Regions from separate parts of the Homo sapiens genome. Here all the other regions are linked to region 3. The links come from fine-mapping of genetic effects on gene expression. A gene starts in region 3. Each other region holds a variant in brackets. All regions are shown on one strand. Distances are from middle to middle.

Evidence for each region. PIP is the estimated chance that this variant, and not a neighbour inherited with it, causes the effect.
Region 1: its variant is the best candidate, but not a certain one, in a credible set for the expression of TAPT1 in whole blood (INTERVAL, PIP 0.62).
Region 2: its variant is the best candidate, but not a certain one, in a credible set for the expression of TAPT1 in aorta (GTEx, PIP 0.62).

Annotation. Positions count from the first base shown.
Region 1 is chr4:16,403,510-16,407,714 of GRCh38, reverse strand. The region is part of intron 1 of LOC105374505 (a long non-coding RNA gene); the gene reads right to left. Among named protein-coding and RNA genes, the nearest start is that of TAPT1-AS1, 180 kb to the right of the region's middle. The variant G/C (reference allele first, on the strand shown) is at 2,581.
Region 2 is chr4:16,033,039-16,037,243 of GRCh38, reverse strand. It overlaps PROM1 (prominin 1), which reads left to right. Exons shown (of 28, transcript NM_006017.3): 4 at 1,483-1,509; 5 at 3,735-3,940. Among named protein-coding and RNA genes, the nearest start is that of PROM1, 49 kb to the left of the region's middle. The variant G/C (reference allele first, on the strand shown) is at 1,783.
Region 3 is chr4:16,224,371-16,228,575 of GRCh38, reverse strand. TAPT1 (transmembrane anterior posterior transformation 1) reads left to right here and starts at 2,105. Exons shown (of 14, transcript NM_153365.3): 1 at 2,105-2,317. The coding sequence starts at 2,119. It overlaps TAPT1-AS1 (TAPT1 antisense RNA 1), which reads right to left and starts at 1,913. Exons shown (of 3, transcript NR_027697.1): 1 at 1,399-1,913. RefSeq lists an enhancer at 993-1,052 and silencers at 1,563-1,762, 1,823-1,892, 1,903-2,002, 2,013-2,062, 2,173-2,552.

The sequences.
Region 1 (4,205 bases), 180 kb before region 3:
CAAGATCCACTGTTCTACAGACACCGCTGCTGATACCCAGGCAAACAGGGTCTGGAGTGGACCTCTAGCAAACTCCAACAGACCTGCAGCTAAGGGTCCTGTCTGTTAGAAGGAAAACTAACAAAGAGAAAGGACATCCACACCAAAAACCCTTCTGTACGTCACCATCATCAAAGACCAAAAGTAGATAAAACCACAAAGATGGGGAAAAAGCAGAGCAGAAAAACTGGAAACTCTAAAAAGCAGAACGCCTCTCCTCCTCCAAAGGAACGTAGCTCCTCACCAGCAACAGAACAAAGCTGGACGGAAAATGACTTTGAGGAGCTGAGAGAAGAAGGCTTCAGACAATCAAAGTACTCCGAGCTACAGGAGGAAATTCAAACCAATGGCAAAGAAGTTTTAAACTTTGAAAAAAAATTAGACGAATGGATAACTAAAATAACTAACGCAGAGAAGTCCTTAAAGGAGCTGATGGAGCCAAAAGTCAAGGCTCGAGAACTACGTGAAGAATGCAGAAGCCTCAGGAGCTGATGTGATCAACTGGAAGAAAGGGTATCAGTGATGGAAGACAAAATGAATGAAATGAAGTCAGAAGGGAAGTTTAGAGAAAAAAAGAATAAAAAGAAATGAACAAAGCCTCCAAGAAATATGGGACTATGTGGAAAGACCAAATCTACGTCTGATTGGTGTACCTGAAAACGATGGGGAGAATGGAAACAAGCTGGAAAACACTCTGCAGGATATTATCCAGGAGAACTTCCCCAATCTAGCAAGGCAGGCCAACATTCAGATTCAGGAAATACAGAGAACGCCACAAAGATACTCCTCAACAAGAGCAACTCCAAGACACATAATTGTCAGATTCACCAAAGTTGAAATGAAGGAAAAAATGTTAAGGGCAGCCAGAGAGAAAGGTCGGGTTACCCACAAAGGGAAGCCCATCAGACTAACAGCAGATCTCTCAGCAGAAACTCTACAAGCCAGAAGAGAGTGAGGGCCAATATTCAACATTCTTAAAGAAAAGAATTTTCAACCCAGAATTTCATATCCAGCCAAACTAAGCTTCATAAGTGAAGGAGAAATAAAATACTTTACAGACAAGCAAACGCTGAGAGATTTTGTCACCACCAGGCCTGCCCTAAAAGAGCTCCTGAAGGGAGCACTAAACATGGAAAGGAACAACCGGTACCAGCCACTGCAAAAACATGCCAAAATGTAAAGACCATCAAGGCTAGGAAGAAACTGCATCAACTAACGAGCAAAATAACCAGCTAACATCATAAAGACAGGACCAAATACACACATAACAATATTAACTTTGAATGTAAATGGGCTAAATGCTCCAATTAAAAGACACAGACTGGCAAATTGGATAAAGAGTCAAGACCCATCAGTGTGCTGTATTCAGGAAACCCATCTCATGTGCAGAGACACACATAGGCTCAAAATAAAGGGATGGAGGAAGATCTACCAAGCAAATGGAAAACAAAAAAAGGCAGGGGTTGCAATCCTAGTCTCAGATAAAACAGACTTTAAACCAACAAAGATCAAAAGAGACAAAGAAGGCCATTACATAATGGTAAAGGGATCAATTCAACAAGAAGAGCTAACTATCCTAAATATATATGCACCCAATACAGGAGCACCCAGATTCATAAAGCAAGTCCTTAGTGACCTACAAAGAGACTTAGACTCCCACACAATAATAATGGGAGATTTTAACACCCCACTGTCAACATTAGACAGATCAACGAGACAGAAAGTTAACAAGGATACCCGGGAATTGAACTCACCTCTGCACCAAGCGGACCTAATAGACATCTACAGAACTCTCCACCCCAAATCAACAGAATATACATTTTTTTCAGCACCACACCACACCTATTCCAAAATTGACCACACAGTTGGAAGTAAAGCACTCCTGAGCAAATGTAAAAGAACAGAAATTATAACAAACTGTCTCTCAGACCACAGTGCAATCAAACTAGAACTCAGGACTAAGAAACTCACTCAAAACCGCTCAACAACATGGAAACTGAACAACCTGCTCCTGAGTGACTACTGGGTACATAATGAAATGAAGGCAGAAATAAAGATGTTCTTTGAAACCAACCAGAACAAAGACACAACATACCAGAATCTCTGGGACACATTCAAAGCAGTGTGTAGAGGGAAATTTATAGCACTAAATGCCCACAAGAGGAAGCAGGAAAGATCCAAAATTGACACCCTAACGTCACAATTAAAAGAACTAGAAAAGCAAGAACAAACACATTCAAAAGCTAGCAGAAGGCAAGAAATAACTAAAATCAGAGCAGAACTGAAGGAGATAGAGACACAAAAAGCCCTTCAAAAAATTAATGAATCCAGGAGCTGGTTTTTTGAAAAGATCAAGAAAATCGATAGACTGCTAGCAAGACTAATAAAGAAGAAAAGAGAGAAGAATCAAATAGACGCAATAAAAAATGATAATGGGGATATCACCACCGATCCCACAGAAACACAAACTACCATCAGAGAATACTACAAACACCTCTACGCAAATAAACTAGAAAATCTAGAAGAAATGGATAAATTCCT[G/C]GACACATACACCCTCCCAAGACTAAACCAGGAAGAAGTTGAATCTCTGAATGGACCTATAACAGGCTCTGAAATTATGGCAATAATCAATAGCTTACCAGCCAAAAAAAGTCCAGGACCAGATGGATTCACAGCCGAATTCTACCAGAGGTACAAAAAGGAGCTGGTACCATTCCTTCTGAAACTAGTCCAATCAATAGAAAAAGAGGGAATCCTCCCTAACTCATTTTATGAGGCCAGCATCATCCCGATACCAAAGCCTGGCAGAGACAAAACCAAAAAAGAGAATTTTAGACCAATATCCTTGATGAACATTGATGCAAAAATCCCCAATAAAATACTGGCAAACCGAATCCAGCAGCACATCAAAAAGCTTATCCACCATGATCAAGTGGGCTTCATCCCTGGGATGCAAGGCTGGTTCAATATACGCAAATCAATAAATGTAGTCCAGCATATAAACAGAACCAAAGACAAAAACCACATGATTATCTCAATAGATGCAGAAAAGGCCTTTGACAAAATTCAACAACCCTTCATGCTAAAAACTCTCAATAACTTAGGTATTGATGGGATGTATCTCAAAATAATAAGAGCTATCTATGACAAACCCACAGCCAATATCATACTGAATGGGCAAAAACTGGAAGCATTCCCTTTGAAAACTGGCACAAGACAGGGATGCCCTCTCTCACCACTCCTATTCAACATAGTATTGGAAGTTCTGGCCAGGGCAATTAGGCAGGAGAAGGAAATAAAGGGCATTCAATTAGGAAAAGAGGAAGTCAAATTGTCCCTGTTTGCAGATGACATGATTGTATATCTAGAAAACCCCATTGTCTCAGCCTAAAATCTCCTTAAGCTGATAAGCAACTTCAGCAAAGTCTCAGGATACAAAATCAATGTACAAAAATCACAAGCATTCTTATACACCAATAACAGACAAACAGAGAGCCAAATCATGAGTGAACTCCCATTCACAATTGCTACAAAGAGAATAAAATATCTAGGAATCCAACTTATAAGGGATGTGAAGGACCTCTTCAAGGAGAACCAGAAACCACTGCTCAATGAAATAAAAGAGGATACAAACAAATGGAAGAACATTCCATGCTCATGGGTAGGAAGAATCAATATCGTGAAAATGGCCATACTGCCCAAGGTAATTTATAGATTCAATGCCATCCCCATCAAGCTACCAATGACTTTCTTCACAGAATTGGAAAAAACTACTTTAAATTTCATATGGAACCAAAAAAGAGCCTGCATCGCCAAGTCAATCCTAAGCCAAAAGAACAAAGCTGGAGGCATCAGGCTACCTGACTTCAAACTATACTGCAAGGCTACAGTAACCAAAACAGCATGGTACTAGTACCAAAACAGAGATATAGATCAATGGAACAGAACAGAGCCCTCAGAAATAATGCCACATATCTACAACCATTTGATCTTTGACAAACCTGAGAAAAACAAGCAATGGGGAAAGGATTCCCTATTTAATAAATGGTGCTAGGAAAACTGGCTAGCCATATGTAGAAAGCTGAAACTGGATCCCTTCCTTACACCTTATACAAAAATTAATTCAAGATGGATTAAAGACGTACATGTTAGACCTAAAACCATAA
Region 2 (4,205 bases), 190 kb after region 3:
GCTTTTATATTTATATTCAAAATTAGCATAACATGCTTAGCCAGCCCGAATGCCAACCAAGGAATGAGAGTAGGGGCAGTGCTTCAGTGGGATCCGGGACTTGGAGAACGAGGTCCTGAGACCCTTAGGTGGCCTTGAGGAACCTGTGAGTCTGAGCTGGAGCTGGGCTGCCACCGTCCCTGGCAGGGTCTTTGTGCTTGACTTGGTATTAGATTTGGCACTCCCATAACCTTGGTTTATACCCCTGGCTCCTGCTCTCTTTCCTTGCCTTTGCAAATGAATAAAAACTCTGGGTGGGGGTGCAGTGGAGAGAAGATGCAGAACTGAGCCCACATGAATGAGCTGATTCCTACTCTAGATGTGGAACTGGACCATGCTTTCTACCATTATCCAAAGAAAGAGGTTAATTAAACAAAGGCACCAAAGGATCCAGGCCACATCTAGAGGAGGGCTTTCTGACTAGATTTAGTCTGATAAAGGCTGAGTGTGTTGGGTTGGTTCCCCCTGAAGCAGACCCTACACCAATGACTCCAGGGCAAGTCGTTTATTTGGGAGGCTCAGGGAACACAGATTCCTGGTCTTACCCATATCTTCTGACTCATGTGCTGTAGCAGAGGAGCCCAGGAGTCAATGTTTTTCTTTAACACACACTGTGAGGTGCTTCTTTGTGTCTGGTGAGCTTGGGAGCTTGTGCCCTGGTTGGTAACAAGCCTGCGTGCCCCTTCCCCAAGAAAGGGAGACCGGGATCATTTAAAATGCCCTGTGTGACCCCAGAGGCAGGTATATCTGAACTGCCCCCCAGTCCCAGTATTTTGGATGCCTCATTTAAAAGTGATTCCCATCACAAATGGTGTTCCCTCAGAGCTGTGAAGATCTGCCAGCTGAGGCAATAGTTTCTACACTTTTAGATTTCCTGGACCAGAATATTTCAAAAAAGTGATCTAGAAAATGACATAGAGCCACCTAATTTTATTTTGCCACGAAAGGACATTTAAAATCAAACATTGAGATGTTTGGAATAAAAATGGTGGGAATCCGTTGATCGCTTTAAGCATGGGAATAACACCATCAGATTTTTATTTTAGAAAAGGGCACTTGGGAAGATGCTGCCGTTGGTTCTGGAGTTCTCAGATCTGATTCTCTATTTTATGAAGATCACATGGTTAGTGTGTTAAGCATTTGTAACTTCCCCTCTAATTCTCCTTTGCGTAACCGATTAGCATACGGATTAAGAACCTTTTGGGAAATCCAAATGTAAATGCAAATGTAAATTTCAGAACTCAGAGCAACTTAAAACACTGTTTCTTGAATTCACACTCAAGTTTTATATTCCTTTCTCATGTTTATCCTTCTATCACCCAATTTCCTCCTTGTGGGATATGAATGTTCTTGGTTATGGTTGATCACTCATAACTTTTTCTGTCTGTTTTCTTGATGCATGCTGCCTCTGCCAAAATTCCTCACCTGCGTTGACTTCTACAGCCAGAAACTGTAATCTTAGGTCTAAAGGTAAAGTCCTTGTCTGCTATTTCAAGTTGCTCTTGGAAAGCCTTTCTGTTCTTCACTGTCATCCTCACTGTGAAGATTTTTAAATGATCCGTTTCATTTCTGTTTTTACCATCACTTTTAACCTTCTCTTTGAAGAAAGATATCTCTGTAATATTTACATGTTGATCTTCAACACAATCAACAAAGCACTGGAAGATCTTGGTGTATCAAAAAACAGTTTAAGTAGTGACAGGCCTTCGTCTAGTCGGCCTAGAAGTGAACTCTTGAAATGCC[G/C]TATCTTGTTCCTGATACTGCCTGATATTTAGTCAGTAACATTAGAAAGGCTGTGTTATCAAATGTACAATTTGTATTTAAAGCTAAAATTAGTGCATTTAAAACATTTCAATATATCTTCTCTCCTGGGTTTTGGTTCAGTGTCTCCTGGAATTCAGATAGAATTTACATTTCTTTAAAATAGTAAACAATTTAGAATATTTGCTGAGAAATGATGGAAAAATACGTAAGTAAGAGTTTGGAATGTCTGGGCTGGTTTCTTAACTGACAAGTGGTATTGGTCCTCGAGGAAGGGTTAAGTCCCCTAATAATGCCTCTTCGTGGACATGGGATGGGGGTTAGCTTAAGCGTGAGCACATACTTGATGAACCCAGCAAGATTCAGCCACTCTTTTTTTTAAGCAATTTAATCTTAATATGGAAGTAGATAATATTCAAGTGCCAGATGCACCAGATTTACTAGTCTTGAGCATTTGCTCATAGAGTTAACTACCATTTATTGAATATCTACTGTGTGCTGGGCACTTGGCTAGTTGTTTTCACATTCAGTCATTTAGTTATTTGTCCCTCACAATATGTTTATGAAGTTAATGCTAATGTGACACCATCCACTTTAGGGACCTGGAAGCCCCCTGCTGGGATGTAAAGCAGGTCTCTCCTCCAAGACATCACATTTGCTCCCAGGAACAAGACTCGTGTTTTATTTTCCTTTGCTCAGCTTGGCTTCAGAATTCGCAGCTGTCTAGATTGTCCATTTAGTTGCAAACTGCCAACTTGCAATTTTCTGCCATTCTTTAGAAATATAAGCAGCTACATGCATGAATTGGAATGACATCAAGTTTCATCATCTAGTTGCATTAATTTTCGTTTATCCCGGAATAAAGTCAGCAGTGATTATGAAAATATGTTTAGGTCACATGATTGTATCTAGAAATTGTGCTGTTCCTAGGAACTCAGGAACCGTCTGAGACACGGACTGCCAAGGTCGGTCCTTCACTGTGGATCTGGCTCCTGGGCATGGCATGAGAGGCACCTTTAGTAAGTGTCTACTCAGTGCTTGGTCCTTTGTCACATTATTTCTAATCATGCGTTATCTCTAATTTTCACAATGACTTGACAAGGTACGTATTATTATTTCCAGTGTATCAGAGGAGGAACCTTGTGACTGGCCTGTGTTTAACGTGCCTGACTTAGAGTCTGAGCCTTTTTTCTAAATTAAGATACATTCCAGATTCTTGAGTAATTGTTTGCCAGCCAATCCAAAGTGCTTTGAATCTTTAACTTCTATTTTTGCAGTGTGCAAAGCGCCTTATATGTAGATTGTTATGCAAGTACTCCTGCCAAGATTTATTGATCCATTTAAAAACAAACAAAATACCTTTGGGGTTAAAATTAAACCATTTGCAGCTCAAACTAGCATTTAGACATCTTCCTAGGGGTTGAAAGACATCTTCCAGTAACCACTTGGCCATGTATTTAATTACTCAATTCTCTGCTTCCTCTGTTTCAAAAAGGAGTTTCAAAATGGAAAAAAATACATACATATATATATATATATATGTACACATTCAGATTCAACTAATGATGGCAGATAGGTTAAAAAAATGAAACATGGCCAGGTGCGGTGGCTTACACCTGTAATCCCAGCACTTTGGGAGGCTGAGGCAGGTAGATTGCTTGAGGCCAGGAGTTCAAGACCAGCCTGGACAACATGGTGAAACCCTGTCTCTACTAAAAATACAGTACTCGGGAGGCTGAGGCCCAAGAATCGCTTGAACCCAGGAGGCAGAGGTTGCAGTGAGCCGAAATCGCGCCACTGCGCTCCAGCCTGGGCAACAGAGCGAGACCCTGTCTCAAAAAAAAAAAAAAAAAAAAAGAACTTTGTACACCATGGAATGTTCTACTTATTATTTTGTGCTACAATATGTGCTGTTTCTTTTGTTTGAATTGCAGATTGTCTACTATGAAGCAGGGATTATTCTATGCTGTGTCCTGGGGCTGCTGTTTATTATTCTGATGCCTCTGGTGGGGTATTTCTTTTGTATGTGTCGTTGCTGTAACAAATGTGGTGGAGAAATGCACCAGCGACAGAAGGAAAATGGGCCCTTCCTGAGGAAATGCTTTGCAATCTCCCTGTTGGTGATTTGTATAATAATAAGGCAAGTACAATATTGGACAACAACTGATTGTGTTTTAGGCTGATGAAGAGTGTCTCACATTTTTATGGTTAAACCATGAGTTTAAAACTAAACAAAATAGCAACAATGAAAAAAAAACCCACCAAACAGAAAAGAGAGAGCACAAGCGCTTGTCTAGAGTGATTCGAAAGGATCTCATTATCATCAGACATTAGCGTTGTAATGAAGCTGCCCCAGCTGAGCTGATGAGCCAGCCCTTTGGTATTTTTTTCCTCTTGAAGGTATC
Region 3 (4,205 bases):
AGCCATTCTCCTGCCTCAGCCTCCCGAGTAGCTGGGAATACAGGCGCCCGCCATTACGCCCGGCTAATATTTGTATCTTTAGTAGACACGGGGTTTCACTATGTTGGCCAGGCTGGTCTGGAACTCCTGACCTCGTGATTCGCCCCCTTCGGCCTCCCAAACTGCTGGGATTACAGGCGTGAGCCACCGTGCCGGGCCCTCTCTCTTCTATTTAAAAGGATAGGCACAGCCTTTGGAACTGAATGTCTTTCCTCAGGCCTCATAATAGAAAATGAGGAAAGTCCATTCTGACAACTGGCTGCCTTAGGCAACAGAATTTGGGATTCCTACCCTTCCAGCTCCTGTTGAGTCAAAGGCAAAGGCAATAACCCAATAAATGTGGTGAGACAGTAAATGGAAACTGACATAAAAATAGCAATAAAAGCCTACTTCCTTCTTGACAATCAATACATAATGGAATGGGTATGATTTTACACCATAAAACATCAGAGAATAATAGAATATGGGCTGAAGAAAGCTCAGAAGCCACAACATTTTCCCCACCTTTTGATTTTCAAAACGATTCTTAAGATTTGTCGGGAGTATTTGTTTTCAATTGTTTCAGTGAGGCTCAGTTTTGACCACATGCAACCAAAATAGAGAATTTCATGGAGGATGGTCACAGGATTGGCTTAGAAAAATGTAATCCTGTGAGCTGTCCCCTTTCATAAATAATAAGGTTCCGACGGCTGCACCGAATGTTCCTCCTTTCAACGAGGTTGGGCCGAGGTTGGGCTCCCAGCTGCTGGGACATTTTTAGTCCATCTTGGACTCTCACCTCTGCCTCCTGCTCAGCTGTCAGAATGCCAGGCGGCTCTGCAGCCCAAAGCCCACTCCGTTTTAAACTTGCTCGTTTGCAATCACGTAACCCGCTACTGACGACAGAACCCTCAAGGCCCATTTATATGCGGTTCTCAAGTTTAGGTCTAGGGAAGTTTCCAGGAAGCTTAGTGTTCGGGGAGGAATTCGTTTTGCTTTTGCTAATCAAAGAGACACAAAAGCACAGCTGAGTCCCGAAGCTGGCACACGGGAAATCGAGGTACCACTGTCCCCTCACCGGAGCGCGCAACAATCACTTGGGGAGCGGGGAAAAGGTTTCCACCTTCCCCGAGCCTGGGGCACCTTCGCTCCCACCGCCCCAGCTGGTGGTGGTCTCGACACCACGCTCGTTGCGGGGTCACACGCCAGAGCTGGAAAGGGGAGGTCCAGCCCCAAGTAAAGCGACAAAGTAAGGACACAGTGGTGGCCAAGGGCTGTCTCCTAACCCCAGTCCCGAAAGACAGTGTGGAAAGTCCGCCGGCGCGCCAGCCCTTGAAACTCTGCCGGTCCGGCCGCGGCCCCTCCCCTGCGCGTCCCCACCTGTTGTGAAGCTGCCCAAGCTCCTTCTTGCCCAAATGCTTTGGAAACTGCCAAAGGACACTCAGAGGCCAGGGAATGTAACAGGCAAGCATAAATATGCAGAAGAGATGGAACCAAAATAGCGGGCAGGCAGGGCCGGCGCTCGTGGGGGTCGGTGATCTGGAGCCGGGCCCCCGCCGCCGCGGCCGCGCCAGCAGTGCCAAGACCTGGCGGGCGGCGCCGGCGCACTCCGGGCACCGAGTCTGCAAAAGAGGCCCTGAGCGGACCGCCGGACACCTCGCAGACTGCGGGCAGCGGTGGTGGCGGCCGCCTCTCCGGGGCTCCACGGCCGACCCGCCGCCCGCCGCCGCCATCCCCGGCCCGCTCCTGCCGGGTCCCCGACTCGAGCCCCGGAGGCGCCCGCTCTGCGGGACCGCGCAGCCCGGCTGCATGGAGCCCGGCGCGGTGCCCCGGCCGGCCGAGCCAGCCACGGCGCGAGAAACCGTCGCCCGCCACGGCGAGGGCAGGAAGAAGATGGCGGCTACCGTGGCGGCGGCGGCGGCGGCAGCGGCCTCACACGCGTCGCTGACGCCAATGGCTCGCGCCGGTCGGCGGGCCGCGGATGGCGGCGGCGGCGGCGGCGGCTCGGGCTCCGGCGAGGGGCGGGGCGAGGCGGGGAGGGGGCCGGCCGGAGGCAGAGGCTGGAGGGAGGCGGCGGGGACAGTTTGTTGTGCTCGGAACATGGCGGGCGTCGGCGACGCGGCCGCTCCGGGAGAAGGCGGCGGTGGCGGCGTGGACGGCCCGCAGCGGGACGGCCGCGGCGAGGCGGAGCAGCCGGGCGGCAGCGGCGGACAGGGGCCCCCGCCGGCGCCTCAGCTCACAGAGACGCTGGGCTTCTACGAGAGCGACCGGCGGCGGGAGAGGCGCCGGGGCCGCACAGGTGAGGCGGGCGGCGCTAGGCCGTGGCGGGCTCCGAGGGGCGGACTGGGGACCGAGGGCGGCGGGGGCGCCTTGGAACCCCGGCCCCCGAGCCGCGCGGCTGCCGTTGCCTCCCGGGGCTCCCCAGGCTGTGGGCGCGCGGAGCCGCCGAGGCTGCCGAGGCTCCGCGGCCGTTGACAGTTCCTCGGGCGGGTTGCGCGCGCAGCCCCGAGGCCCCCGCGGCCGCGCCAGGCCAGGTGTGCCCTAGAAGGGGTCTGCGGCCGGGAAAGTTCTGTCCGGGTCCTTGCATCGCCCTCGGAAGGTCTTAGGTTAGCGGGCATCTCCCACGTCTCGGAGCCCAAACGTGAGAAGCACACGGCTGATTTCTTAATTATATTCATGCCAAGGTGACTTTTTTTGTTCTGTATTTTAAGCAAACTTGAGCCATAGAAACCTGTTAACTTGCCCTGCAAGTAGATTTTTCACAGACAGCTGACGGTGTGGTAGTGACCATGAAGTTCAGTAGTTTTGCCCAGTACAGAAATATTTAACACTCCATAAAATGTTGCATCTGAACTTTTCCTGAACTGAAACTTATGCCAAAAAAATTACTAGATGAGAAAATGTGTACTTATGAATCCTACATTCAATGACCAGTTTTAAACGTATTGTTACAATGTTACAGTTTCTATAAGCTGTAGGTTTTTATTCTCATTTTAAAAGAATTTTTAAAACTTGCATTTGTATTCATATTGCAGTTACAGATTAGTTTTAAATGAAAAAAGGTTTTGAGATGGATGTCTTCTTGAATATAGAGTGAACCCAACGTTTTAATTCTCAAGCTGTAAACAGCAACTGAACCATAACTCCATTAAATTTCTTCCAACTAAAAAATTACTTCTGTTGTCCAAAAGGGGCTGTGTTAGCCGTTATTTCCTGAAGTTCATGCAAATAACTAAGTTGTGAGGCTGATTACATCATTGATTGTACTTGAGTACTGAAATTTTAAAACTACTTAAGGGGCATAAAGTTGATCAGATGCGATTCTAATTGATTTGCTGATTCCCAGAACTGGACGTAGGTTCTATTTGAAGCAGTCTATATTTTTGGAAAATTACAGACGGTCTTGTTTGGTCTTTTTCAATTAACCACTTAAAAATTCTCAACCATACTTTATTTGGTTTAGTTCTCAGTTAAACATTTGCTTTCAAGAGTATTTACTTTCTTCATTGGCAGGATCTCAGTAAGACAAAATAGCAAATCTCTCAACTGTCTGTTTACTTACTTAGACTTGAATATTAAAAGCACTCTGTTGTAAATAGAGATAGATGTAGCCAGGCTTCACTATACTTTCTTTAAAACATTTCTCAGTTGCAGGAAAGCCACCATTTTAAAAGCCTTTTTTTGTTGTTTGCGTGGAGAGGAAATGAAGTTGTTTGAAGCCTATTGATGAGCACAGATCTTGAGCTTGCAGTATCACTTAACACTTCTTCCCTGGCTTTTTCTGGGACTGGATACCTGGACTTCCATGGACTTCATTATACCACGTATCCATTCTTCACCAACATGGTTCACCATGTTTAAGGCTGGATTTTTTTTAACCCATAGTTGCAGGAAGTCATTATCAGGGAGATGCCTCCAGGTTTAGCTGTTGGGGTAGTCCTTGTTCTTTCCCCAGTTCCATTGATTTTGTGTGAGGAGATGTCAGTGGCCACTCCTGCTTTACCAAGTCACACTAGCCTTGGCGATCAGGATTTAGGTGAGAATTCCAAATTCCAGGAGTATTTCAGCTGGAGCCACTGGCCAGTGTTCTCTCTGAGCCTCCACATAAGCCCCTCCTTCTTTTCCCCTGGTGTCCCTGCTCTGCTAGTCACATAGCTCCTGCCACTGCTAGCACCCAGTCTGTAGCT